Homo sapiens: one gene and its partners. The protein of the gene in region 3 interacts with the protein of the main gene of each other region in a pairwise test. Each region holds a gene or a part of one and is shown on either strand. Other genes may lie near its edges.

The links.
Region 1: the proteins of ARAF (region 3) and TIMM50 interact in binary tests that used the Homo sapiens proteins (3 or more experiments, as listed by UniProt).
Region 2: the proteins of ARAF (region 3) and RRAS2 interact in binary tests that used the Homo sapiens proteins (3 or more experiments, as listed by UniProt).
Region 4: the proteins of ARAF (region 3) and TIMM44 interact in binary tests that used the Homo sapiens proteins (3 or more experiments, as listed by UniProt).

What each region holds. Positions count from the first base shown.
Region 1 is NC_000019.10:39,483,700-39,490,972, reverse strand, and holds part of TIMM50 (mitochondrial import inner membrane translocase subunit TIM50), read right to left. Parts: exon of another isoform or gene 6,183-7,273; intron 5,727-6,182; exon of another isoform or gene 5,597-5,726; intron 5,430-5,596; coding exon 5,371-5,429; intron 5,286-5,370; coding exon 5,166-5,285; intron 4,787-5,165; coding exon 4,682-4,786; intron 4,577-4,681; coding exon 4,478-4,576; intron 2,913-4,477; coding exon 2,756-2,912; intron 2,435-2,755; coding exon 2,328-2,434; intron 1,255-2,327; coding exon 1,153-1,254; 3' UTR 1-1,152. UniProt on the Homo sapiens protein: Essential component of the TIM23 complex, a complex that mediates the translocation of transit peptide-containing proteins across the mitochondrial inner membrane. Has some phosphatase activity in vitro; however such activity may not be relevant in vivo.
Region 2 is NC_000011.10:14,356,107-14,363,433, reverse strand, and holds the start of RRAS2 (ras-related protein R-Ras2), read left to right. Parts: upstream 1-4,250; 5' UTR 4,251-4,563; coding exon 4,564-4,671; intron 4,672-4,966; exon of another isoform or gene 4,967-5,196; intron 5,197-6,729; exon of another isoform or gene 6,730-6,748; intron 6,749-7,327. UniProt on the Homo sapiens protein: GTP-binding protein with GTPase activity, involved in the regulation of MAPK signaling pathway and thereby controlling multiple cellular processes. Regulates craniofacial development.
Region 3 is NC_000023.11:47,557,076-47,564,373, reverse strand, and holds the start of ARAF (serine/threonine-protein kinase A-Raf), read right to left. Parts: upstream 3,170-7,298; 5' UTR 3,123-3,169; exon of another isoform or gene 2,935-3,122; intron 1,466-2,934; 5' UTR 1,407-1,465; coding exon 1,311-1,406; intron 1,149-1,310; coding exon 1,045-1,148; intron 1-1,044. UniProt on the Homo sapiens protein: Involved in the transduction of mitogenic signals from the cell membrane to the nucleus. May also regulate the TOR signaling cascade. Phosphorylates PFKFB2.
Region 4 is NC_000019.10:7,933,450-7,940,722, forward strand, and holds part of TIMM44 (mitochondrial import inner membrane translocase subunit TIM44), read right to left. Parts: intron 4,749-7,273; coding exon 4,578-4,748; intron 1,697-4,577; coding exon 1,616-1,696; intron 790-1,615; coding exon 640-789; intron 555-639; coding exon 415-554; intron 122-414; coding exon 36-121; intron 1-35. UniProt on the Homo sapiens protein: Essential component of the PAM complex, a complex required for the translocation of transit peptide-containing proteins from the inner membrane into the mitochondrial matrix in an ATP-dependent manner.

The DNA of each region.
Region 1 (7,273 bases), on a different chromosome or scaffold from region 3:
GATCTCGGCTCACCACAACCTCCGCCTCCCAGGTTCAAGCAATTCTCCTGCCTCAGCCTCCTGAGTAGCTGGGATCACAGGCATGCTCCACCACGCCCAGCTAATTTTGTATTTTTAGTAGAGATGGGGTTTCTCCATGTTGAGGCTGGTCTTGAACTCCTGACCTCAGGTGATCCACCCACCTCAGCCTCCCAAAGTGCTGGGATTACAGGCGTGAGCCACTGCGCCCCGCTAGGAGCCAACATTTTAAAATAGGGAGATTTAATATAAAAATCCCTATTTTAGCTGGGCACAGTAGCTCACACCTGGAATCCTAGCGCTTTGGGAGGCCAAAGCAGGAAGATTGCTTAAGACTAGGAGTTTGAGACCAGCTTGGGCACCAAGACCCCATCTCTACAAAAAAAAAATTTGTTTAAATTAGCTGGGTATGGTAGCACGCACCTGTAGTCCCCAGGAGGGTACTCAGGAGGCTGAGGCAGGAGGGTCACTTGGAGATCACTTGAGCCGGGAGGTCAAGGCTGTTGTAAGCTAAGATCACATCAATGCACTCCAGCCTGGGCAACAGTGAGACCCTGTCTCAAAAAAAAAAAAAAAATATTCCCAAGTTCTTGCTTCTTTTGAACAACTGGCGTGTCAAGCAACTCCAGGCCCCCTTTACCCCAGGGCCACACTGGCTGGAGCCAACCAGCAGCTGGCCTGTTGAGAGGGGTAATCTCTGGTCCACCAGAGGCCCACTAGGCCCATAACACATTCTCTCCACAGTAGCCTGGCAGCTACCTGTCTTTAAAGCCAAGTGCCATCCTCTCTTCCCTTCTCCACAGATGAGGAGTCTGTGGTCAGAGGGAGATGTATTTTTCACAGATCACGCAACACACAGGAAGACACAGCGAGGGTTTTTAGATTCCGAGACCAGGGTGAAAAATCTGCTCTGATCCAACAAAGCACCCCCACTGTGCTTGGCAGCCGATCAGCCACTGTGGGACGATGACCCAAGAGTCCCGGACCTCACCCTGATGCCCCCATCTGGAGACTCTCGGGACACAGCAGGTGTGGCGTCTGGGATGTACTTTATTGGACAAGTGGTGGCCCAAGTCTTGGTCTGGAAGCACTGGGGCCCTGGACCCAGGCACTGAGTTTGAGGAGGCCCAGAGTTCAGGGCTGTTTGGAGCGAGGCCACAAGCGGCTGGTGAGGGAGCCAAGGAAGAGGTTCTGCTTGTTGGACTTGGAGAGCTCGGCCAGGCGCTGCTGCTCCTCCTGGGGTAGGGGGACAGTTGGAGGAGAGGGTCAGCGCAAGGTGGACAGAGCCTCCTCCCAGATGCCCAGGTCCCCAGGCCTCAGCCCAGGGACCACCTTTCCTTCTGACTTCTGCCAAGTCCAGACCCCTTTCCCCAAACCCTGGGGCCCCCAGCCCAGACACAAGGGACCCTAGACCCCAGTCCCCCCACCCCAGACACTAGGAAGAGCCAGCTCTGAGCCGCAGGAGCCTAGGCTTCAATGTTTGGGGGACGACAGACTCCAATACTAGGCACTCGAGGTATTCAGGCCTGAACTGCAGTAGGTTCTCAGGCCCCAGACTGTCATAATCTCCTTCCCCAGATCCCAGGGACCCCTCCCCTGAGCCTGAGATCCTATCGCAGACCCTGTTACCCCAAGGTGAATGCTGGTGAGATCCCAGGTCCAAACCCCATGGCCCTCCTCACCAGACTGCATCATCCTGCCCCTGGGCCCTCTGAGCCCCATGACCCCTCTCTGGATGCAGGGGTGGGGGGTTCCCTGGGGGGTCCCCAGGCCCAAATCTCTAGGGACTTCTCTGGGCACTCAGGGGCTCCCAACTCTAGGAACCTAACCTAGAATCTGGTGAACCTCAGCCTAGACCCCTGGGAATCTTACCCAGACGCAATCCATACTCTCAGTCCCACTTCCAAATTACCAGGGTCCCACCAAGACTATCACATCTCTCCCCACAGCCTTGGGCCACGTGCCCAGGGAGCCTCTTTCCAGGCCTGATCTAAAACCCACAATCCACCTCCACAAGGTGCCCCCAGACCTACTCAAGACCATCAAGGGCAACCCCTCTCCCAGCCTAATCTCAAATCCTCTCCTGTTTCCTGTTCTCAGAGCAGGCTGCAGAATCAATGCATCCCCTCATTCTGGCAGCCCTACAGGACAGGCTGTGTTATATCCCCCTGGTTACAGAGACTGAGGCAGAGAGGAGGTATCTGCTCAGGGTCACACAGCCAAACCAAGAGTGTGGAGATGGACTGCCCCAGGCTCCTCCTTCAGGAGCCTCAGAGCCGATCCTCCACTCTGGGCATCTGAGCACCAACCTGCTCTAGCCGGCTTTGCCGCTGTTTGAAAGCCGCCAGCGGGTCATCCTCCAGGGCATAGTGCTCCAGCACGGTTCGCACGTCCTCCACACCATTCAGTGCAATGGCTGTGGGCACAACAGGGGGTGGTCAGCCAGGCTTCTAAAGGCCAGAGGGAGGCAGGGCCCATGAGGGGAACGTCCCGCACTGGGGCACGGGGGCAGTCAGTGCTACCTGGAATGCTTCTGAACGCTCTGAAAGGGCTCCCCTGAACATCCCCAAGTATCCCCCAAACATTCCATGAACATCCTAAGAAGCTCCTAAAGACTCCAAGGTGCTCAGGCACCTCTTGCACCTCAGTCGCCCAGCCATGAATCATGCATTTATCCTTCCTCTTCAGAGTCAGGGGCTCTGGGGTCAGAGGCCAAGGGATCAGGGGTCAGCCTTACTCTTGAGGAAGGCAGACAGATCCAACAAGACCCGGTCATCAGAGTTGCCGTCCCAGGGCCGCAGGGCAACGCCGTTATAGGGCTGCAGGCGGAAGGCTTCCTTCTTGCAGTCCACAACTACTACTCGAGCTGGGTCCCGATTCAGACATGAAATATCCTGGAAGTGAGTGACAGATCAGGTCAACATCTGTGCCCAACTCTCCCCCCATCAAGAAGACCCAAAACACACAAAACATACATACATACACAGCATCACACATACTGGGATCACAATGGCAGGGCCTCTCAAAGACCGGCTTTGGATGATGGCATCGACCCCCACAGAGGGCCAGGCATGGTGGCTCACGCCTGTAATCCCAGCACTTTGGGAGGCCGAGGCGGGCGGATCACCTGAGGTCAGGAGTTCAAGACCAGCCTGGCTAAAATGGTGAAACCCCGTATCTACTAAATACAAAAAATGGCCGGGTGCGGTGGCTCACGACCGTACTCCCAGAATTTTGGGAGGCCAAGGTGGGCAGATTGCCTGAGCTCAGGAGTTCAAAACCAGCCTGGGCAACATGGCGAAACTCTGTCTCTACTAAAAATACAAAAAATTAGCTGGGTGTGGTGGTGTGTGCTTGTAGTCCCAGCTACTCGGGAGGCTGAGGAAAGAGAATCGCTTGAACCTGGGAGGGGGAGGTTGCAGTGAACCAAGATCGCGCCACTGCACTCCAGCCTAGGCAACAGAGCGAGACTCCGTCTCACAAAAAAAATAAATAAATAAAAATAAAAATAAAAATTAGCCAGGCATGGTGGTGTGTGCCTATAGGCCCAGCTACTCAGGAGGCTGAGGTGGGAAGATCGCTTGAGCCCAGAAGGTTGAGACTGCAGTGAGCCATGTTCATCACACCACTGCACTCCAGCCTGGGTGACAGAGCAAAACCCTGTCTCAGAAACAAAAAACAAAACAACCCCCAGGATATTGGGGAGCTAATCACATAGACTTCTAGACCCAGGGCCTAGCACACAGAGAGGTGATTAGGAAGTTCCCTGGAGAGGGAGGTGGCCACTCTCGTGTTTAACCCCTGCCCAGGTGACTGTGGTATGTTGCAGGTTTAAGAACCTCTCACTCAAGTAAACAGGTGCAGACAGATCTGCAGCCACACCCAGGGAACCACACAGACAGGCACCCAGACACAGACCCTTCAAGACCCTCGATCACAGCCCACGTATTTTGGAATTTCCAAGAGCAACACAGAACCCCCACCCCGACACGACACAGACAGAAACCAACAGACACACAGACACTTGGAGCCAGACCCACAGAGGCCCATTCGCAGATCCGGACTCCTGAATACAGCACTGGCCACAGTAACAGAGCCCGGGTCAAACAAACCCCAACCAGTCTCATATGTACAACTATAAGCAAACCTTCCCAGAAACACTAAGTTACAGACACAGCAAGATAAAACCAGCTTCTAAATCGTACGACCTTACCACTAACCCCCAACTGTCTTCTTTAGAGAGACCCCATTTCCCCCCACTCCCACACCCAGATTCCAGGGAACAAAGAAGGGTGCAGATGTCTGGCCAAGGCTAGAGGCAGGCATGTGCCTGCCAGCAGGAATCGAATCTGGGCAGAACCATAAGCCAGGTGAGGCTAGGGTCAGAGCTGGGCCCTCCTTCCCTCAGGTGGTGCCAACTCCGCCAAATCCCAGAGGCCCACCCATGAACCCACGGCACCTTTACATGGTGTCCATCCATGTATCTTGTGGCGTCCCGGAATAGGCGGTAGGAGATGAAGCCATGGGGGTCCACACTATCAATGAGTGGAAACGCAGTCTGGGGGTGGGAAGGGAGCGAGAAAAGGTCAGGCTGAGCCCTGGTCCTCCAGATCTCTACGCCTCCCACCACACCAATATTCCCTCCCCTGCCCCAGAGCCTCACCATGCCAGTCTCTGACGTAAAGATGACAATTTCATATAAAGGGGCAAGCTGCTGGAACAAGGTCTCGATGCCTGGGCGCTTCTTAAACCTCCAGCCAGTGGCCAGCTGGGAAGACAGTGAGGACAGTGAAACACCAAGACCCAGAGGTCCTCAGAGTCCCCAAGAGGACAAAGATCCAGCCTGGGGGATTCCCAGAACAGAGTTCTCTCCCTCTGTCTCTGTGGCTCTTGGAGGTCAAGAAGTTCATAGGCTGTGACTGCGGGTCTGGCTCCTTTGTGGCACTTATAGCGTGCCTGGGCACACCTACACTACCCTACAGAGTGGGTGTTAGCATGACTGCCTTCTCCCAGCTGAAGAAAGCGAGGCAATGACAGGTGACATCTCCTCCCCAAGATCACATAGCACAGCCAGGGCTGAAAGTCCACCTCATCACAACCCCACTGCCCAGGTCTATCCCCAACCCACTGGGTTTCCCGGGACACACCGACCACTCAGGATGCAAGAGGACGCCGGTGAGCTCCAAAACGAGCGTGTAGGGTGGCTGGTAGTACGGTTCCTGCAGAGGGTCTGGGAGAAGGCAAGGGCTGGTGGGCTCGATGATCATCTGTGGGAGAGGGACAGGATGGGGGCGCTCAGACAAGGAGGCCAGGGCTGGAGACATGGGGACTGAGCCCAGGGCTTCTGCTCACCTGTCTATAATCTTTGAAATATTTGTATGTCCGGCGCAACTGCTGTACCAGAATTGGATCTAGGAGAACACCAGGCACAAAGAGATTCCACAATAAGCCGCTGTTCAACCTCCCAGACAAACCAGGGGTTTCTTATCTACCAGATACAAACAGGTCTGCATATCTGCCTGGTTTGAACCAACTCATTTCTAGGTCCAAAGATAGAAGGCAATGACATACCGCCAGATAGGAACACAGATTTATTTACTTGCCCTATTTTAAGCTGATACTTATATCCACATACTACCCCAGGTATGAAACAGAATGCTTATTACATTGGCCCACTTAAAACCCACATACAAGGCCGGGCACGGTGGCTCACGCCTGTAATCCCAGCACTTTGGGAGGCCGAGGCAGACGGATCACGAGGTCAGATCAAGACCATCCTGGCCAACATGGTGAAACTCTGTCTCTACTAAAACAGTAAAAAAAAAAAAAAATTAGCCGGGCGTGGTGGCATGTGCCTGTAGTCCCAGCTACCTGGGAGGCTGAGGCAAGAGAATCACTTGAACCCGGGAGGTGGAGGTTGCAGCGAGCCGAGATTGCACCACTGCACTCCAGCGTGGCAACAGAGTAAGACTCCGTCTCAGAAAAAAAAAAAACAAAACAAAACCCACATACATGTAAATCTGCTGACATTACACCAGGGTATACATACTTTTTTAATAGAGACAGGGTCTTGCTCTGTTGACCGGGCTGGTCTTGAACTCCTGGGCTCAAGTGATCCTCCCGCCTTGGCCTCCCAAAGTGTTGGGATTACAGGCGTGAGCCACCACACCTAATTTATGCCACTGTATTTTGCCCACTTTGAATCACTAGGCTTCCAGATCTGCCCACTTTAATCCAGTGTGCTGAATCTAAACCACAATAAATATATAAACACATCCATATACCATAAAACAGTGGTTCAGAACTAGGAACAATTTTGTCTATCTGCCTACCCCTGGGAAATCTGGCAATGCCGGGAGATATAACCGGTTATCGCAATACTGGCATCTAGTAGGCAGATGCCCAGGATGCTGCAAAAATCCTTCAATGCACAGGGCAGTCCTCTATAATTATCTGGTCCAAAGCGTCAATAGGGCCAAGGGTGAAAAACCCTGGTTTAAGTGAATATATTGACTCCAGTTTACTTTCTCATTTTAACTTATTTTTTTTTAGAGATGGAGACTCACTCTGTCATCCAGGCTAGAGTGCAGTGGCGGGATCACAGCTCACTGCAGCCTGTAACTTCCAGGCTCAAGTGATCCTCCCACCTCAGCCTCCTGAGTAGCTGGGACCACAGGCACAGGCCACCACTCCCGGCTAATGAATCCAGTATAAAACAGTAAACTTACAAGGCTACCTACTTTAATACAGTATTTTTAGTGCAATACATGGGCCTGCCTCTTAAAAAAAACACAATATATTGGGCCAGGAGTGGTGGCTCAAGCCTGTAATCCCAGCACTTTGGGAGGCTGAGGCGAGTGACCACCTGAAGTCAGGAGTTCGAGACCAGCCTGACCAACATGGTGAAACCCTGTCTCTACTAAAACTATAAAAATTAGCTGAGTGTGGTGGTGTGCGCCTGTACTCCCAGCTACTCGGGAGGCTGAGGCACGAGAAATGCTTGAACCCAGGAGGTGGAGGTTGCAGTGAGCCAAAATTGCATCACTGCACTCCAGCCTAGGCAACAGAGCAAGACTATGTCTCAAAAAAAAATAAAAATAAAAATAAACCACAATATTGAAACCAGTTAGGCTAGTAAACATATACACTTTAAAACTGCAGATGTACCTGCCCAATTTAAATCAGCATACTGATTTGTTGAAGCCAGCATGATTCTACAACTGCCCAGTTTGAAACAATCAATGTATTAACATGA
Region 2 (7,327 bases), on a different chromosome or scaffold from region 3:
GGTTCTCATTTAGCAGGTCTGGGGAGGAGCCCAGTTTCTTCATTTTAAAAGACACTACAGGCTGCCTTTTATGTTTGAATAGGAAAAAAATAAATAAATAAAATACACTACAGGGGATTTGGAAGCACATCCTTCGTGGAGAACATTGTCATAGTAGGATTTGCAAGCTCTTAAAGCCCACTAAAGCCAGGCAGGTAACAAATGGGTGGTGTGTGATAGAAGAGTGCTGGTGACCCTGATGAACAGGAGGATCTTAAGTTTTCTAAAACGCAGTCAGTATTTAGCTTTAGCTAGTTGTTGCCAGATAACGCCAGTCCAGTGTTGCTAGATATTCCACTTAATTTTTCCAAGAAGAGTTAGAAATACTGATTTATTTGTGACATACCCTATTTTTAAATATCGGCAACCAATTCAAAATTTACACAAAAAATTTGAATTGTAGGCCAAAACATATGCGCTGGCTAGATCTGGCTCTGAATCTGCCTGTTGAAATCTCTTGACAACACTTTAGCCAAACAAAAGCTTGATTTAAGTCAAAATGATGCAGTCAACAGCTCTCTTGACTGGCAGCATCACACTGCTTCTGCGATGTGAGGCTCTCCGGGGTTCTGGATAACACCCAGCTTGGCATGGAGCAAAGTGCTCTGAGCAGGGGAGTCAGGAGACCTGTTTCCTAATCCCTGCTAACAACTTGCTAGGTGACATTGGGAAAGAAATTCTCTCCCTTGTCACAGGATTTCTTTCTATAAAGTAAGGGGGATGATCTCTATTGTTCTTTCCAAGGTTCTAGATCATTCTTTTTCATGAAAATGTATGTACTTATTATCTGTCAGCTACTTGAAAAGGAAACTTTTCAGATTAAGTTGAAAATTCACCTTTAATTGGCTTGAGTGACAACTAGTTCTTCCTCTCCCATATTCTCCTGTGTCTTCAGTGATTTGTGTTTGCATGGAAGTTTCTTTCTGCTGTATGCTTTTGGGGGTATTTTCTAAGGGAAAGAGCTCATTTTGGCATAGAAAGTCTGGGCGGGGTTGAGCATATGGACTTCTCATTTGCTGAATACTACGTTTGAGTCAAATAAAAAAAATAAAGGAATAGAGTTAATATAGGGAACATTCTGAAGTATAAAGCCACTTCCTTGAACTTCACAGTTCAAATGAAACCTTGCAATTGAATCTTTTTTCCTTGTAGCTTCACTGAGACATAATACAGACACAATAAAATTCACCCATATAAAGCATACAATCCAATGTTTTTAGTATATTTACAGAGTTGTGCAATCAACACCACTATCTAATTTCAAAACATTTTCAACTCCTCAAAAAGAAACTCAATACCTACTATTGGTTGCTGTAATCCTGCAACCACAAATCTGCTTCCTGTATCTATAGATTTGCCTATTCTGGACCTTTTATATAAATGGAATTATATAATATGTGGTCTTTTGTGTCTGTCTTCTTTCATTTAGCATAATGTTTTCAAGGTTTATCCATGCTGTAGCATGTATCAGGACTTCATTCCTTTTTATTGCCAAATAATATTCTATTGCGTGGCTATACGACATTTTTTTGTTTATCCACTCATCAGCTGAGGGACAACTGAGTTGTTTCCACTTTTTGGCTATTATATATAACATTCACAAACAAGTTTTCATGTGAATATATGTCTTCATTTCTCTCAGGTACAGATAAGTAGGGGTGTAATTGTCAGGTTGTTGGTAACTCTACATTTAATCTTTTGAGGAACTGACACATACAGTTTTCCAAAGCAGTGGCATCATTTAACACACCTACCAGCAGTGTATGAGGGCTCCAGTTTCTTCACATCTTTGTCAACACTTACCTGTCTTTTTAATTTTAGTCATCCTCGTGTGTGTGAAGCAGTATTTCGATGTACTTTTTTTTGAGACAGGGTCTCGCTCTGTTGCCCAGGCTGGAGTGCGGTGGCCCCGAGCTCGGCTCACTGAAACCTCCGCCTCCCAGGTTCCAGCGATCCTCCTGCCTTGGCCTCCCAAAGTGCAGGGAATACAGACATGAGCCACAACAATTTTGTTTTGCTTATGATTTTGTGGGTCAAGTATTCAATAAGGGTCGGGAGTGATGGCTCATGCCTGTAATCCCAGTACATTTTTTTTTTTTGAGACGGCTCTGTCGCCCAGGCGGGAGTGCAGTGGTGTGATCTCGTGATCTCACGATCTTGGCTCACTGTAACTTCCGCTTCCAGCGTTCAAGCAATTCTCCCACCTCAGCCTCCGGAGTGGCTGGGACTATAGGCGTGTACCACGCCCAGCTAATTTTTGTAATTTTTTGTAGAGACGGGTTTTGGCATGTTGGCCAGGCTGGTCTGGAACTCCTGGGCTCAAGCGAGCAATCCGCCTCCCTCGGCCTCCCGAAGTGTTGGGATTACAGGCGTGAGCCACTACAATTTTATTTTGCTCATGATTTTGTGGGTCAAATATTCAAGAAGGGCCGGGAGTGATGGTTCATGCCTGTAATCCCAGCACTTTTTTTTTTTTTTTTTGAGCCCGCATTGTCGCCCAGGCGTGGGTGCAGTGGCGTGAACTTGGCTCACTGTCACTTCCGCGTCCCAGGCTCAAGTGATCCTCCCACCTCAGCCTCCGGAGTAGCGGAGAGTACAAGTGCACGCCACCACTCCGGACTAATTTTTGTATTTTTAGTAGAGATGCGTTTAGCCATGTTGGCCAGGTTGGTCTGGAACTCCTGGGCTCAAGCGATCCGCCCGCCTTGGCCTTCCAAAGTGCTGGGATTACAGGCATGAGCCATTGCGCCCAGCCATCCCAGCACTTTGGGAGTTCGAGACTAGCCTGGGTAACATAGAGAGACCTTGTCTCTTAAAAAAAAAAAAATTACCTGATCTTGATGGCATGTGCCTGTAGTCCCAGCTGCTAGGGAGGCTGAGGTGGAAGGATCACTTGAGTCCAGAAGTTGGAGGTTGCAGTGGGCCATGATTGTGCCACTACACTTCAGCCTGGGTGACAGAGGGATCTTGTCTCAAAAAAGAAAAAAAAAAGATTTTTAAAAAAGGAATTCAGGATGGGCTGGCCTGGATGGGTATTTTTGCTTGGGGTCTCTCACGCAGTTGCATTCAGATGCTAACAGGGGATGCCGTCATTGGAAGGCTCGATTAGGCTGAGTGTCCAAGATGTCTCACTTAGATGGCTGGCAGGTGATGCTGGTGATCTGGTGGGAGCTCAGTGGGACTTTTTTTTTTTTTTTTTAAATGGCATGTTGCTCCTGGCCATCAATCAGACTTCGACTGGCATGCCTACATGTAGCCTCTTTAGCATGGCAGTCTTATGATAGTCAAACTTCTGACTTTGTTCCTCCCGGAGTGAGAATACCAAGAGAACAGCTGCATGGCCTCTTCTGATCTAGCCTGGGAAATTAGGCAGCATCTCTTCTGCTGCATTCTACTGGTTCCAAATGAGTTACCAAGTGAAGTCCAAGAACTTGCAGTCATGTTCCAAGATTGCTGTAAATGCTTCCTGTGTAGCAGCACTGTTTTATGTGCTCATTTAATTCTTATTAAAAACCCCATGAGGCCGGGTGCAGTGACTCACACCTGTAATTCCAGCACTTTGGGAGGCCGAGGCGGGAGGATTGCTTGAGGCCAGGAGTTCAACCCCTCGCACTCACACTCCTCATATCCAATTACTGCACATTTGTCACACATAAACATAGCCACTATGACACTGTACTGACACATACAAAATCTGTCACATTCCGTCTTGCCCATGCAAGCTCAATCACTGACTTATTCTCCATGCTCAGCCACTGTCCCATTCTTCACACTGTCACAACCACCAGCCCATCACACACTCAATTACTGTGACACAGCTCTAATCCTCAATCACTGTCACATACTGTTTTTCACACAAATATGGTCACCATCTGTACTCTTAAAGCAGGGTATGTACTCTCCTATAAAATTGAGTTAATATGCCAACAGCCCTATTTTTCGCACACGCCGTCACATATTGTATTTTTCATCCACACAATCCCTTACATAGACAATTAGGGTGACACACTCTTTCTGCCTTCGTCCCACTCCCAACTGACACCCACTCCCACACTCTCACGCACTCGCTCACTGGCTAGGGATTAGAGCGGTGTGTCCGTGGGGGTCTGAAGCCCGGGTTACCTCCCGAACCTCAGCCCCAAGCGGCGCGGCCCCGCCCCTCCCCGCCCCCTCATGCATATGCAGCACCTCAGCCTGGCAGCCCGGCCCCCAGACGGCCATTTGTGGCGGCGCTGGAGGCTGCGTTCGGCAGGCGCTGCGGAGACGCGTAGAGGAGCGCGCCCCCCGGCCGCTGCCGCCCCTGGCCCGTGCCGTCACCCCGCTTCTCCGCGCCTCGGGCGGTACCCAGCCAGTCCCCAGCGCCGCGCTACCGCGCTGACCGGCCCTCCAGACGCCTCCCGGTACCCGGGACCCCAGCCCGGCCGCTCGCCCGCAGCCCGCCGGCCGCACACGTCCCCGGAGCCGGGCCTAGGGCGGGCGGCAGCGGCGGCTCGGCGCAGTCAGGCTGGGCTCTGTAGCGTCCCCATGGCCGCGGCCGGCTGGCGGGACGGCTCCGGCCAGGAGAAGTACCGGCTCGTGGTGGTCGGCGGGGGCGGCGTGGGCAAGTCGGCGCTCACCATCCAGTTCATCCAGGTACCTGGAGCGGGCCTGCCCGGGGCGCCGGAGCGGCGGCGGGCGGGGGCTGGCGCTACCTGTGGCGGGGCGGCCGCCGCGACCTCGCCCCAGAGGCGCCTCGCGGGCCCGGGCCGGGGCCAGGGGGCGGGAGGGCGCGGGGCCGACTACGCTCCTGCCCTGCGGCCGCAGCGTCGCGCTCCTGCCTCCTCCCGGGCGCGGCGTCGCGGGAGTAGGGCTTCTCAGGAATGTGGTCGGGAGGGCGGAGCTGGAAGGGTGGGAAGCACCGATCCACCTTATTGCTCTGGCCGAGGCCAGAGACCTCCGGGAGAGGCTGGGCCACCGAGCCGGGCTTTACTGCTCCGAGGGTCCGGGCGTGGGGCTGGAGCTGGAGCCCCGCGCGCTGCTTTTCCAGCCGCCTGCGGCCGCGCCTTCACCGTCGGGGCGATAGCGGTGGCAACTTGGCCGCGGCTCCGCGTGGTCTCCGGGCTTCCCCGCGCCGCCTGAGCCGGAGCTGCCCGCTTCAAGTACTGTGTATTTCTTTGTGTGTGTGTTACGCTCTTTTTATAAGTACTCTCTTAGGTAATATGTCCGGGTGGGAGTGTGTGATAATGCCCCGGGGAAATGGTGGCTTCTAGGAAGTTAAAAATGTTCTCTGATGGGGTGAGACCATTTCCTAGGAATTCCTGATGCCGTCCTGCTTCTCGCCGTGCCTAGGTGAAGTTTGGGATGGGCCGGGCTAGGATATGACCGAGTCGTGCGTTCTGTTTTCTAACCACCCTCTCCCCTACCCCCAGCCCTCTCTGGTTGCTAGAGACGGTAAGTCAGGGGTTTGTGGTAAAGAAAAGGGAGGTGGTATTCTTCCTTCTTAGAATTTGCTCTTGGGGAGAGGTTTGAGTAGTCTTTTTTGGGATTTTTAAAACACAAAGCCCCGATGTCTTTCTGCTTTTGTCAACCTAAAAGGTGTGGCATATGCTGGGAGAGAACGAAGGTACCCTGTTATAACAGGAAACAAGGATATTTTTCACAGTATCTAGAGTATGAACGGTGAAATATTTTTGTCTGGTTTCCTTTTCACCCATTTGTCATTAATTGGGATACCTGAATAGCTTATTTCACTTAGTGTTTATAGTGACATTAAAATATTGAGTACTGTAACAAATGTGATTGTCACCTTTCACATTGAGTAAATGAGCAATAATTGCTGCTATAATATTCCCTGGATTACTGCTGCTAAAACCTTTGAATCCAGGAAGAAAGGATGTTTTATGTAATGAGCATTTACAGTATGCTTATTAGTGGGTTAAAAAAATCACTGAGTAAGGGGTGAGATTGGTTTAAGTTTAGCAGGCTACAGAATCAGGGATGCTGTCAGGTTGCTATTTCCCTAGGGCGCAGAGAGATTGTACGTATCTAATGGCAAAGCAAAACAATTTATAGCTAACCCTTTGGGGACTAGTCTGATGGCTGAGGGAGGGTGGGGGTGAGGGGATAAGTGGAGGAGAAGTCTAGGAGTGGGAGAATAATCTTGGGTTACAATATTGGTAGTGTTATTTAAAAGATTTGAACCACAAATATTTACGTTTTTTTGAGGAAGGGGCCATCTGAATTATTTGAGCCCATGTTAATTAATTAAGGTGTTGGGCCTTTTTGTTTTGGGGAAGTAATGGTATTAAACCATTAAGAAAGCGGTAATTGGGCCTGGCGTCGTGGCTCACACCTGTAATCCCAGCACTTTGGGAGGCCGAGGCGGGTGAATCACGAGGTCAGGAGTTCCAGACCAGCCTGGCCAATATAGTGAAACCCCGTCTCTACTAAAAATACAAAAATTAGCCGGGCATGGTGGCGCGCGCCTGTAGTCCCAGCTACTCTGGAGGCTGAGGCAGTAGAATCGCTTGAACCCGGGAGGCGGAGATTGTAGTGAGCCGAGATTGTGCCTGGGCAACAGAGCGAGACTCTGCCTCAAAAAAAAAAAAAAAAAAGCATTAATTGCCGTTTTCCTAATAATTTATAGAATCATTTGTTGAAGAAATACCTCCACTGTGAATAGTATAGTACCTGGATGCTCTAGATGATATTAAAGAAGTAAAGGAAGCAGGTATGTATGAGGAAGACATATGTGTACATAAAGAGTATGAACCTTGAGTCTTACAGACTTGAGCATGTGTGTCTTTTAAAGCTCTGTCATTTATCGGCTGTGAGAACATGGCCAAAATACTCAGCCTCTCTGAGCCTCAGTTTTCTCGCCAGTAAAATGGGTCTGATTACACATTCTTTATAACTTTTATGACAAAGATGGTAGCATTGTATCCAGCATGTTGTATGTGCTCAGTAATGGTAGGTGTTATCAGTGTTTATGCCTACAGTTCTGTAACATGTTTAAATGCAAAGGGAATTCAGACTCAGAGAAGTCTGTGGAAAAAATTGATGAAAGCATTATGTAGGCTTGGTGGTGGGGAGAATGGAAATGTCATATGTGGGAGTCATATGCTAGTTTGGAGAGAGGAGGTGGCAAGTGGGGAAGTGGGATTGATAGTTGATTTGGGACCTGTGATCTGGTCTCTGCAAAAAGGAGCCTTTTTGGAGAGACAGGAACCCGACCACCTGGATGCAGTCTCAGCTCTACCACTTGCTGCATGTGTAATTTTAGGCAGGTTACTTAACTTCTCTGTACCTT
Region 3 (7,298 bases):
AGCAAGACCCAACTCAGCAGACAGAGAATGGGGAAAATGAGGAAGAAGAGACCTGATGAAGTCATGACATCGTGAAAGGACAAAATAGATGAAATCTGGGCAGAAGTGATGGACCAGGGTGAGGACTTGGGGGCCAGGGGAGAATGAGTTGCTGACCTTACAGGCCAATAAACCAATGAAGTAACAAAACAAAAGATGGATGAACTCATAGATTACTTGAACTACAGTAGTCCTCCCTTATCTGTGGTTTCACTCTCCATGGTTTCAGTTACCTGTGGTCAACCGGGTGGGAAAGTATTAAATTGAAAATTGCAGAAATAAACAATTCATAAGTTTTAAATTACGTGCATTCTGAGTAGCGTGATGAAATCCTGCACCATCCCACCCAGGATGTGAATCACCTCTTTATCTAGCAGATCCACACTGTCTACGCTACCGCCCATCACTTAGTAGCCTGCTCAGTTATCAAACAACTGACTCAATATCATAGTGGCTGTCTTCAAGTGACCGCCATTTTACTTAATAATGGCCCAAAAGCACAAGAGTAGTGTTGGTGGCAATTCGGACATGCCAAAGAGAAGCTGTAATGTGCTTCCTTTAAGCAAAAAGGTAAAAGTTCTTGACTTAAAAGAAAATCATATGCTGAGGTTGCTGAGATCTACTGTAAGAAAGAATCTTCCATCTTTGGAATTGTGAAGAAGGAAAAATAAATTCATGCTAGTTTTGATGTCATACCTCAAACTGCAAAAGTGATGGCCGGAGTGCATGATACGTGCTTAGTTAAGACGGAAAAGGCATTACATTTATGGGTAGAAGACAAGAATAGAAACATGTTCCGACTGATAGCAATTGGGTTCGGTACTATCTATGGTTTCAAGCATCCACTGGGGGTCTTGGAACATGTACCCTGCAGATAAGGGGGGACTAAAGACTAAGGGAAGACTAATGGAAGACTCTGTGATAAAGTACAGAAGGAATCAAATGACTGAGGAGGGGATGGGAGGTGGGACACCCAGTGGGTGGGCGTGGGGCTGCCACACTCACCCCTTGATGAGTCGGTAGACCACACAGCAGTCCTGATTTAGACCCCGCACCTTCAGGGCCTTGTCTAGAGAGTCGTAGACACTCATGCCATCCCGGACAGTCACCTGTGTGTATGTGCAGATGTAGGGGTCCTCAATGCCCAACAGAAGCGCAGCTGATGTTCCCATCCTTCTGCAAAGGCCTCCCCCAACCGTTGTCACCCTTTTGATCCCAGAGTTACAACTGGGTCCATCCACAGCCCCTGCCATTTCGCTTCCATGACTCACCACCGTGCGTTGCTTGTTGGGCAGGTATACTTTGACGGTGCCCACTGCCCGGGATGGCTCGGCCCCATTGGCAGGGGGGCCCCGTGGTGGCTCCATGGAGCCTTAGATTTTGTCAAGATGGGCTGAGGTGGGGCTGGGCAGGTGCCATGGGGCTCCTACAAGAAGGCAGACAAGAATTCAGAGGTCCAATAATGATAGTCTAGAAGCAAAGTGGCAGGGGACAAAATAAAATTCAAAGTCCAGGCTCCTGTCGCCCCCTGCAGCCTAATTTTCACACGACAGTCCAAGAGATCCTGCTCACATCTGAAGTCCTTCCAGTTCCTTCTCTGCTCAGGCCCTCCTGTTGCTTGTCTCACTCTTGAGTGCCAAGGTCTCAGCTTCACTGCACAGGGTTGCGGGGGAGAGAACAGGGAAGGGGGACAGAGCATACTGTCTTGGAGGGTAGAGGAGCACACAAGACTCTGTGCTGGGGACCAATGGGGAAGTCAGTACACACTGCACTGAGCCGTCAGGTACATAAGAAGCACGAACAGAATGTCCTGGGTTTTTTTTTTTTTTTTTTCTGTTTTTTTTTTTTTCTGACAGAGTTTCGCTCTTGTTGCCCAGGCTGGAGTGCAATGGCATGGTCTCAGCTCACTGCAACCTCCACCTCCCAAGTTGAAGCCATTCTCCCGCCTCAGCCTCCTGAGTAGCTGGAACTACAGGCGTGTGCCACCACGCCCGGCTAATTTTTTGTATTTTTAGTAGAGACGGGGTTTCACCATGTTGGCCAGGCTGGTCTCGAACTCCTGACCTCAGATGATCCACCCGCCTCAGCCTCCCAAAGTGTCCTGGTTTTTTAACAGAGAACGGGGGAAATGCCAGTTACTGTGGTGAGGGAGGAGTCGCAGGCACGGTGATGGGAAAGAGAGGATTATCAGATACTGCCCTTAGTTTGGGGAAGATGGAGGTTGCACCAAACATGTCCTTAAAGGGCACTGTGGACATCCCTAAGCCCTGGGGTGTAATGTTGATGTTAGGACCACAGACACCGTTGTTAGGTGGCTAATGGAAGTCCCAAGCCTCTATGATGAGGAATTCATGGGGGGGGGGGGTCACTACATACTATGCGGAAGGGAGATGTAACAGGCGTCACTAGGGACTGTAATGGGGAGAAGGGTGGAAATGGAAATGACCAGACATTGAGCCGAACTGGGGAGGTAATGGTGGACCACCAGACATTGTCATAGCAAAAGGAGAAGGAAGGTATGGTGTTGCGGGGAGAAAAATGGAGGTAAAGAGGGAGCTCCAAAATTCTCCTTGACAACCTGTGAGGGGTCACAGGCATATTACTGGTCTAAACTGAATGAGGGATCATGGAAGGCGGTTACAGAGGCGAGAATCCTGACATTCTCCCGGCGGGGGCGGTCAGACACTGATCCAGAATAAGGAAACCGGGGAGTGAACCGCGTTTCCACACACTCCCCGCAGTTGGTAAGGAAAGGTCATTGGACACCTTAGCGGGGGTTAAGACGGAATCCCGGCACCACTCGGTCGGGTCCCGCCTACCAAAGGGCTTCCGGCTCTGCGCAGGCGCACCACCACTAGCAGCGGGCGAAACCATCACCCGCAGCCTTGCCCGCCTATTCCTGTTACCCACCCCACCCCCGCTGTCGACGATGGTCTCGCCCCGGGTCAAACCACTCCTCCGGTTCCGGGCAGGGAACGCCGGGGCCCAGGCGCAGCCATCCTGGAGCTGAGCTTTCGGTCCGGGCTCCCTGCCCGTGCCCGGCAGCCGCTCCAGAAACCGAGCCCTCCCGGGCCCGCCCTCACCTGTCACGCCGCTACAGCCGCCGCCGTCTCCATCTTGGGCCTCTCTTCTTGTTTCCTCACAGAGTCCGCCTCCGTCGCCTCTCGGACTCTCGTTATTGGCTCTGCGGGACTCAGCCTTCCACCCTTATTGGGTCAGGGTCACGTCTGTCAAGGCAAGACCAACGGAATGTGAGTCGTGTTCCGGATTAGGAGGGGCCGCCTGAAACGTCAAGATCTGGGGCAAGCGCTCGTCCTGACTCGCGCAGGCGCAGTTGAGGCAAGACCTGCGTGCCTAGGGCTTTAACCCCAACAGTGGCATAGACGTATAAAGCAGAACACAGGTCATTTGGGGCTGACCTTAGGGCTTTGGCATCTGGGCGGAGAAATCCTTAAGTACCCTTTTTGGGCCAGTGCCCTAAGCACCCTTTTATGATTTTCCCGTGTCTCAGTTTTTACCATCTTTGAAATGGGTTGGAATCAGAACCAATGATCGGCGATGTTCACCAGCTCTAGGAGACTGTAGTTCATAGCCTTTGAGGACAGCGGGTCTCTGGTGTGGCGGGGGCTGGGGGACTGGGCCTAGGAGGGGCGGCCTGCTGTCTGGGAGGCTTCCTTTAGGAATGGGGTTGATTAGGACTATGAAAAACTAGTCACAGGTGGCCAGGTGAAGAGGGAAGTGCGGACCTGGAAGGGAGCACGATGCCAGTCAATGTGTGGAGGTATTGTGGGGTAAACACAAATTTTTAAAGATCGAATTTTCCCTGGTGTCAAAAGAGAAAGACGTCTCTCTTAGAGCATTTCCTTTAGAAAACTTGTAACTGTAAAATTTTCTCTGTCCCTTTGAGATGTATGTAAGTCCTTTTAAAAGCTAAATCTCTTGCCAGTTTTACATCCCCGGAATGTTTTTCTTAAGAGCCTTGTAGCCATCTCTTTGAAATGTAAACATCAATGAAAATAGCACCCCTGTCTTTCCCTGTCTTCGTGGGAATTTGATCTGCGTGCCTGGCTTCAAGTTATTACCTGCTTGTCATAGAGATATGAGTTTTCGTTTTCCTTTGGATAAAGGCAATTAACTAACACAGATAGCCACCCTAATTACCAGGTGAATTTGGGATGAAGTATGTGTACCAAATGGTGCCGTCAAGTTTCTTGAGCACAAGTTATTGTTTGAGAATATGTTTGTAATGGGCTGTATCTGCCTGCTACATAAACGGATGAGATTTCTTTCTGTCTTTGAAACCTCTTTAGCAGATTGTTTGTGATGTGCATCACAGTCTGGTGTAATGCTTATTCAGTTATAAAACTTTCCATTCCTGCCGGGTGCGGTGACTGATGCCTGTAATCCCAGCACTTTGGGAGGCCAAGGCGGGCGGATCACTTGAGGCCAGGAGTTCGAGACCAGCCTGGCCAACATGGCAAAACCCCGTCTTTACTAAAAATGCAAAAAAAAAAAGTCAGCTGGGCGCGGTGGCGCGCGCCTGTAATCCCAGCTACCTAGAATGCTGAGGCAGGAGAATCACTTGAACCCAGGAGACAGAGATTGCAGTGAGCTGAGATCACGCCACTTGCCACTTGCACTCCAGCCTGGGTGACAGAGTGACCCTGTCTCAATAAAACAAAAAACAAAAAAAAACTTTTCATTCTTGTCTACTTTGTGGAGAGGATTCATTGGGTTGGCACGAGATTCTCTTTTTAATTATTTCCCCAACACCATGAATGGCCTGTTGTGTTTCAAGTGACTGCATTCTCCTGTTTGGAGATTTAGCATCCTTTGGCAATGTAATGGGAAAGATCAGAGGAAGGTCATAGGTGAGGGGGGGCCTCAACATATTTCAATCTGTATTTATCACATGGCTTTCTCTGTCTATAAGAAGGAAGACAGAAGTTCTGCCTACTGGCCTCCCATATAATTTCCATTTCCCAACTCCCCTTTTCTTTTCTTTTCTTTTCTTTCTTTTTTTTTTTTTTTTTTTTTTTTGAGACAGAGCCTTGCTCTGTCACCCAGGCTGGAGTACAGTGGCAAGATCTTGGCTCACTGCAACCTCCGCCTCCTGGGTTCAAGTGATTCTCCTGCCTCAGCCTCCTGAGTAGCTGGGACTACAGGCGCCCACGACCATGCCTGGCTAATTTTTATATTTTTAGTAGAGACGGGATTTCACTATGTTGGCCAGGCTGCTCTGAAACTCCTGACCTCAAGTGATCTGCCCACCTCGGCCTCCCAAAGTGCTGGGATTACAGGCTTGAGCCACCACACCTGGCCCCAACTCCACTTTTCTATTCGGATCTTCACCATTTAATGGCTAAAAAAATTTTTTTTTTTTTTTTAGAGACAGGATCTCACTATGTTGCCCAGGCTGGTGTCGAGCTCCTGGCCTCGTTCTCCCAACACTCTAGGATTACAGGCATGAGCCACCATGCCCAACTCCAATGGATAAAATTAAAAAGACTGACAATACTATGTATTGATGATAATGTAGAGCAATTGGAACTTTCATACATTGCTATTGGGAGTGTAAAGTGGCACAAGCACTTTAGAAACAGTTTGGCAGTTTCATATAAAATTAAACATAGACCTGCCATGCAATCAATCCAGCAATCTCACTCCTAGGTATTTACTCTAGAGAAATGAAAACACATGTCCAATGGTGTGCTGGTAAATGTTTGACAACCAACGCTCCAGGAAGAAAACAGCTCTAATTTGTACTGTCCCCATGGCTTATTTCAGGCTACCAATATGACAGTCGCTGAACCAGATTTAAAAGAGATGCACAAAATCCGCTCTGGTGAGCCAGCTACAACATGCTACTATTACAATATGTCTGCACAAAAACTTGTATGCAAATGTTCAGATTAGCTTTTTCTTAATAGCAAAAAACTGGAAACAGCCCAGGTGTCCAGAAACAGAACTGACAAAAAAATACAACAATGGGATTATGGAATACTACTCAGCAATGAAAGGGAATAAATTACTGACATATAGGAAGAGCATAGATGAATCTCGTAGACATGGGGCAAAATGAAAAAAGCCAGACACAAAAGAGAAATACTGTATTCCACCCATATGAAATCTAAACCAGGCAAAACTAATCTATAGTGAAGGAAATCACATTAGATGTTGTTTTGAGGGAGAATGACTGAGAAGTGCATTAAAGAACTTTTGCAGGTGATTGGAATGTTCTGTATGCATTTGTCAGAACTCATTGAACTCTATTTTTATTATTATCTTTTTTTATTTTTGAGACAGAGTCTGGCTCTGTCACCCAGACTGGAGTGCAGTGGCACGGTCATGGCTCACTGCGCCTTGACCTCCTGGGCTTAAGTAATTCTCCCACCTCGGCCTCCCAAGTAGCTGGGATTACAGGCATGCACCACCACACTCAGCTAATTTTTAAAATTTTCTGTGTAGATGGAGTCTCACTATGTTGCCCAGGCTGTTCTTAAACTCCTGGGCTCAAGTGATCCTCCCACCTCGGCCTCCCAAAGTGCTGGGATTACAGGCATGAGCCACCTTGCCCAGCCTCATTGAACTCTACACTGAAAATGGATATATTTTGCTTTATGTGTAATATACCAGAATAAGAACTGCATGGCAAAAAAAAAAAAAAAGAAGAAGGCCACAAACATAATTCTAAACATTTGTTTCTTAGAAATTCTTATTGGTTAGAGAAATTATTTTGAAAAAATTCTTTTTTCTGAAATTAAATCCCTAGACCCTGAATCTCCATCTCCCACTGCAGGAGCCCTGGCAAACACCTCAGTGCCAGTGGGGTCAGGAACAACTCCTGTTTGGAGCTCAGTGAGGGGCTTTGGGGAGGGGAATAGGGGAGTGCATTTTACATTTCAATTCACTTAAATATTTAATTTGTTTAAAAACTTTAATTTCTAGGCAGTATTTGAAGACAGACCTCTGGCTCCATCGTTCAACGTTTACAAAAAGATGAGAAAAATGCCAGCAAAAGCTCATTGCTTTTGCAGGATGGGGGAAGGAGGGGAAGGGTAGGGGACATAGCCCACTCAAAGGCAATGCTTTCTCCCCCAAGGACTCATAGACTCACTTCACACCCATCTCAACTGGCACTTCAGCCAAGTACCTTACAGGTACCTGACACTTTAAAGCATGAAGTCCTTTAAAGTGATTTAGGTTTGGTTTTCTTTTGTTTTGCGACAGAGTCTCGCTCTGTCACCCAGGCTGGAGTG
Region 4 (7,273 bases), on a different chromosome or scaffold from region 3:
CACAGTCACCTGCCCTCCAAGACACCTTCACTCACGGTTAAACACCACGTTGTTCTCCTTGAAGTCCTTCCACTGCTGGTACCACTTGGAGTCCTTGTGCAGCACGACCCCCAGGGCCTCCCTGGGGAAGAGGGTGGGCCCTGGGGTGAGCGGCGGCGCCAGGGCCACCCTGTGCCCTCCTGCGGCTGCAGGCAGGGGGCAGTACAGGACAGCAGGCAGCTGAGACCTCAAACCTAGGGGCTCTGAGGACCCCGCCCTCACCTCTCACCCTCAAATTCGAGGGAGCCGGGAACCTTGGGCAGAAGGCAAACTCAAGAAACGGACTCAGGAGGGAACCATTGGTGGGCTCCCGAAATGGACAGCAGTGAAAGCTGCCCAAAATGGGGGCAGCGAGGGCCACGGGCTGGTACCTACTCGTTTGGCTCAAACACTTTCTCCTCCTTGAACTTATCTCCCGCAAACTCCGTTCTCTTCCGGAGTCGCTGGGGCCTCCGGTAGGGCCCGGTCTGTCCCAGGACGCTGTCGTCAATTTCCTTCTTCACGGACTCCACCCCCTGCGAGGGAGGCACAGCGGGGCTGGGGTGGGTGTCTGGGTTCGGCCGCCCCAGGCTGCATGCCCTAGCCCAGGACTGGGCTCACCTGGGAGAGGGCTCTGAAGGCCGCTGTCCTGCCCAGCTTCTCCCCGCCTTTGGATACCGACTCGGCCGACTGCTTGGCCGTCTTGGCTGCTTCCTCCACGCCCTCCTTGATTTTCCGGCCGAGATCACTTTTACTGACTTCGTGAAGGCTCTACTGAGACAGACACAGAGAGGGGGCGTTGGCACCGGCCCTGGCGGCCGGGGGGCGGGGCAGGAGGAATGAATTCCTGCCGGAGAGAAGGGCGGATCTGGTTCCCCGAGGCCGGCAGAGGCCTTCTGTGCTCCTGTGGTACGCGGCACCCCCAGAGCCATGAGCACAACGGCACCCCCAGAGCCACGAGCACACCGCCACCCCCAGAGCCACGAGCACACCGGCACCCCCAGAGCCATGAGCACACCGGCACCCCCAGAGCCATGAGCACACCGCCACGGCTTCCGGGATGCTGGCCCTGGGCTCTGGGTGAGACGCTGGGTCTGCTGGCCCCTTTCCAAAATGGGCAGGAGTCCTCTGGAGACCCGGGAACTGCCTGGCAGCAAGGATTCCCAAGGAGGGGACCCCGGGGAAAGAACGGCGGTGAGGGCGCCCCATGCTGCGCAAAGCTGGACAGAACAGACAACCGAGGAGAGCCGCAGCACCCCAGGAATCCTGCCTCCCGCCTCTACCCTCGGGAGGGGGTGGAAGCGGCCCCTCTCCTCCTATTTTTAGGCAGGAAAAACATTTTCATGTTCTCCTCGAGTCCTGGCTAGCAGCACTTACTGCTGCCGACTCCCTGGGTCAACGGTCATGCAAGGTTGCCAGTCTGACCTCACCCTGCATGTGCCGGGAACTCCTGAAACCTTCCCGAGGGTGGCAGCACGCCCCATGCCACCCACTGCTGCCAAGCCACCCCCACCCAGGAGCCGACTCTTCCTCCAGCCTCCAGCGGCCAGGGGACTTTGATGGCCCCAGCGGCTCCAGGCGGGCGTGGAACTGTTACCTCCTTCACGGTGCCCGTCAGCTCCCCAAGCTTCTTCCGTAGCACCTCGCTCGTCCGCACGGTTTCTGACTCGATGGTTTTCTAGGTAAAGAGCGCTGTGTCCTTTTTTTTTTTTTTTTTTTTGAGACAATGTCTCCGTTGCCGAGGCTGGAGTACAGTGGCACGCTCTCGGCTCACTGCAACTTCCTCCTGCCAGATTCAAGCGATTTTCCTGCCCCAGCCTCCCGAGTAGCTGGGACTACAGGGCCCACCACCATGCCTGGCTAATTTTTGTATTTTCAGTAGAGACAGGGTTTTACCACGTTGGCCAGGCTGGTCTCAAACTTCTGACCTCAAGTGATCCACCCGCCTCGGCCTCCCAAAGTGCTGGGATTATAGGTGTGAGCCACTGTGCCTGGCCAACCGTTGTGTCTTTAAGTCTGTATGTTCTGACACGGCAGTGACATTTCTCTTACAGCCAAAGGTCCAAGAAGCATCTTCTCCGCAGCCCCTCCCTCCCCGCACCTGCCAGCATGTGCTGCCTCCAGGGCCCCCGGCTGCCCACATGGCTTGGATTGAGGGTCTCAGCAGCGGTGAGCTCCTTGCTCAGAAGGCCGGCAGACTCGGGTCCCCGCTTGGCAGCTACCTCCTGAGAACAGGAGGCCCAGCCTTCACCTTTCACCGGGTGGTAGGAGGTGGCCTTGCCTGTCATCACTGTGCCCCTCATCCAGCCTCCAGCCACCACAGCTTGGTCTTATGTCTCCCGCTCCATCCATCCCACTCCAAACTCAGCCTGCTATGTCTTCAGATGACCCCTGCATTAATGATAAAGAGGGGCTGGGCATGTGAGCTGTAGTCCCAGCTCTTTGGGAAGCTGAGATGGGAGGATCGCTTGAGCCCAGAGAGTTCGAGACCAGCACAGGCAACATGGCGAGACCCTGTCTCTAGAAATATAAAAAAATTAGCCAGGCGTGGTATCCCATGCCTTTAGTCACAGCTACTCAGGAGGCTGAGGTGGGAGAATCACCTGAACATGGGAAGGTCAAAACTGCAGTGAGCTGTGATCACACCACTGCACTCCAGCCAGGGTGACAGAGCAAGACCCTGTCTCAAAAAACCAAACTAGGCTGGGCACGGTGGCTCATGCCTGTAATCCCAGCACTCTGGGAGGCCAAGGCGGATGGATCACCTGAGGTCAGGAGTTCAACACCAGCCTGGCCAAAGTGATGAAACCCCGTCTCCACTAAAAATACAAAAATTAGCCTGGCGTGGTGGTGGGCGCCTATAATTCCAGCTATTTGGAAGGCTGAGGCAGGAGAATCGCTTGAACCCAGGGAGGCGGAGGTTGCAGTGAGCCGAGATCGCACCATTGCACTCCAGCCTGGCTGACAGAGCAAGACTCCATCTCAAAGGAGAAAAACAAAAAACGAACAAACAAAAAAACACAAATGAAACCAAACCAAACCAAAATGCAAGGGACCCGTGGCAGGTGCCTGCATCTCTGAGGCTCAGCTGCTCATTGGTAAAATGGGGACACTGTAACTGCCTCGCAGGGCCCTTACAAATAAAGGAATGCAGAGCCATTCCCAGAAGCCAGGGCTTGGCAGCTGCTCAAGAAGAGAAGTGACAATTAATAATGACAGGCTGGGAGCAGTGGCTCACACCTGTAATCCCAGCACTTTGGGAAGCTGAGACGGGCAGATCACTTGAGGCCAGGAGTTTGAGACCAGCCTGGCCAACATGGTGAAACCCCGTCTCTATAAAAAGATATATAGGGCTGGGCGCACTGGCTCACACCTGTAATCTCAGCACTTTGGAAGGCCAAGGCAGGTGGATCATTTGAGGTCAGGAGTTCAAGGCCAGCCTGGCCAACATGGTGAAACCCTGTCTTTACTAAAAATACAAAAATTAGCTGGGCAGTAGTGGTGTGTGTCTGTAATCCCAGCTACTCGGGAGGCTGAGGCAGGAGAATCGCTTGAGCCTAGGAGGCAGAGGTTGTGTTGAGCCAAAATCGTACCACTGCACTCCAGCCTGGGCAATGGAGTAAGACTCTGCTTCAAAAAACAACAACAACAACAACAACAAATCAGCTGGGTGTGGTGGCGGGCGCCTGTAATCCCAGCTATCCGGGAGGCTGAGGCAGGAGAATCAGGAGCTGGAGGTTGCAGTGAGCCAAGGTCACGCCACTGCACTCCAGCCTGGATGACAGAGCAAGACTCCATCTCATAAAATAAAATAAAATAAAATAAAATACCAGCACCATCACCCAGTTTCCACCAGGCTCCACTCAGAGGGCTACAGCTGGGAGCTCTCAGGAGCGCTGCATCCCATAGCTGGTGTGCATGCGTTGCCTGGGGGCCTGTGAAGATGCGGGCGCTGGCCTGGCAGTTTGGGAGGGTGTGAGCCTCTGCACTGCTCATCCACTCCCAGGAGGAGCCACTGCTGCTGGTCTGGGGACCACGCTTCAAGCTGCACAGAACGCTGCATGGTCTCATGGCAGAACCCAGAGGCCTGGAGACCCGCACCTGTCCCCTGGCTCCCTCTCATTAGTGCATCAGAGCAGTGACCTCACTTCCTCACGAGCCACCCTGCCCCCAACCGTCCAGCCCTGAGCTCCTCTGGCTGTCCCTGGCCTGGAGAAACCCTGGCCCTGGAAACAAACATGTCAACCAAGAAAGGTAAGAAGCAAAGGGGCCCAACGCGGTGGCTCACGCCTGTAATCCCAGCACTTTGGAAGGCTGAGGCGGGCGGATCACTTGAGGTCAGGAGTTCGAGACCAGCCTGGCCAACATGGTGAAACCTCTTCACTACTAAAAATACAAAAATTAGCTGGGCGTGGTGGTGCGCGCCTGTAAGCCCAGCTACTCAGGAGGCTGAGGCAGGGGAATCACTTGAACCTGGGAGGTGGAGGTTGCAGTGAGCCGAGATCGCACCACTACTCTCCAGCCTGGGTGAGGGAAAAAAAAGCAGCAAAGAAACTCACGTATTTCCTTCTGGCCTCCTGGAGCACGTCTGATTCTTCTAGCCTTCTGGCCTCGTCACGGAATTTTTTTATACTTTCTTTCATTTCTTTGTTTTTGGCTAATTCTTGTTTGACATTATCTAGCAAGCCGGACAGAAAGCCTTTTCTGTTTCCAGAAGAATATGATTTGGACTAGAAAGAATGTACAAGAAAAAAAATTTAAAGAACATAGTAGAACATAGAATGAAATGCCCCACAGAGGGACTCAGGGATTTTTTTAAATGTTCTCTTTTCGGTTGATATACATTTAATGATGATTAGCTATCTCTTTTATAATAATCATAAAAAACAAAGAAACAGCAGGTGATAAAAGTGTGGTATATCCAGACAACAGAATATTATTCAGTGCTGAAAAAAAAATGAGCTCTCAGCCACTTTAGGAGGCTGAGGAGGGAGGATTGCTTGAGGTCATGAGTTTTAAGACCAACCTGGGCAACACAGCACCCTATTTAAAAAACAGGCTGGGCGCGGTGGTTCACGCCTGTAATCCCAGTACTTTGGGAGGCTGAGGCGGGCAGATCACCTGAGGTCAGGAGTTCGAGACCAGCCTGGCCAAAATGGTGAAACCTCATCTCTACTAAAAATGCAAAAGTTAGCTGCGCATGGTGGTGTGTGCCTTTAGTCCCAGCTCCTCAGAAGGCTGAGGCACAAGAATTGCTTGAACCCAGGAGGAAGAGGCTGCAGTGAGCCAAGATTATGCCACAGCACTCCAGTCTGGGTGACAGAGCGAGACTCCATCTCAAATAAAATAAAATAAAATAATTTAAAAAACAAGCAAGAAATATGCTCTCAAGCTGTGAAAAGACACAGAGGAACCTTAAATGTATATTGCACTAAGTGAAAGAAGCCAATCTGAAAAGGCTACATACTGTCTGATTCCAACTATAGACCGTTCTGGAAAAGGCAAAACTAAGGGGACAGTAAAAGATCAGTGGTTGCCAGGGGTTTGGTAGGAAGAGGGTGAGATGAGTAGGGGGGAACACAGAAAAATGTTAGGGCAGTGAAACTACTCTTATGATACTGTAATCACAGAGAATGTACACCACCAAGAGGGAACCGGAAGGTAAACCATGCATTTATTAATAATAATGTATCAACATCCTGTCAATTGTGACAGATGCTCCACACTAATGCAGGACGTGAAGAATAGAAAACTGTGTGCCAGATGGGAGAGGAGGGGCATGGCAACTCTTTGGACATTCTGTTGGATTTTTCTGTAAACCTAAAACTGCTCAAAAGATAAAGCCTTGTGAAAGCAAAACAAGGCCGGGCGCAGTGGCTCCTGCCTGTAATCTCAGCACTTTGGGAGGCCAAGGTGGGTGGATCACTTGAGGTCAGGAGTTCCAGACCAGCCTGACCAACATAGTGAAACCCCCGTCTCTACTAAAAATACAAAAATTAGCTGGGCGTGGTGGTGGGTGCCTGTAATGCCAGCTACTCAGGAGGCTGAGGCAGGAGAATCACTTGAACCCAGGAGCCGGAGGTTGCAGTGAGCCAAGATTGTGCCACTGCACTCCAGCCTGGGTGATGGAATGAGACTCCATCTCAAAAAAAAAAAAAAAAAAGCAGGCTGGACACAGTGGCTCATATCTGTAATCCTAGCACTTTGGGAGACCGAGGTGGGCGGATCACTTGAGGCCAGGAGTCCGAGACAAGCCTGGCCAACATGGTGAAACCTTGTCTCTACTAAAAATACAAAAATTAGCCAGGTGTGGCGGCGCCTGCCTGTAGTCCCAGCTACTGAGGCAGAGGCAGGAGAACTGCTTGAACTCGGGAGGTGGAGGTTGCAGTGAGCGGTATCTCGCCCCTGCACTCCAGCCTGGGCGACAGAGTGAGACTCTGTTTCAAAAAAACAACAGAGAAACAGTTTAATGAATGATCATACAATAATCCAATCAGGCGGAAGGGGCCGCCTGTGGTCAACTTTTCCACAGCTGTGTTGGGTATACCAGCTCCAGGTGGGATCCCCCTCCCTGGCTCCTGTCAAGCTACAAGAGAAAGCTGCATCCAGCCTGGTGCTCAGGCCCCGTGGAGTCACACACCTGTGGTCCCAGCTACTCAGAAGGCTGAGGTGGGAGGATCGCTTAAGCCCAGGAGTTCAAGGCTGCAGTGAGCCGTGATAGTGCCACTGCACCCCAGCCTGGGCCACAGAGTGAGACCCTATCTTAAAAAAAAAAAAAAGCCCAGTGCTGCTCCCCAGGACAGGTGGCCAGGCCTCCTGTCAGCAGGCTGCAGTCCCATTCAGATGCCACCCTGGCCAGCCTTTCTCCAGGGGAAACCCAGGTTCTAAGTAAAATCATCCAGGACCACACAACCTTATCGCAGCCCTACCAGAGACTCTTGGGCTACAAACCATGGGAGTGAGTGTGTGGCGGGGGACTAGACAAGAAAGGGAAAGAGTCACAGGTCCTGTCCCACACCCACGATGGCCCCAGGACAGGACTGGAGAGGTAGGTAGCTGCCTCCAAGGAGGCAGCTGAGCTGAGGCTCTGGGCGCAGAGAGAGAGGGAGACAGAATGTACGCGCTGCCCGAATGTACAGGTCTGGGGAAGGGAGTCAGGTTTTGGGCTTCTGTCCTCACGATGCTGAGACACCAACAGAAGCACAGTTGAAGAGGAATGACCAGGAGAAACTGAGGTCTGGTTGTGACAAGGTGA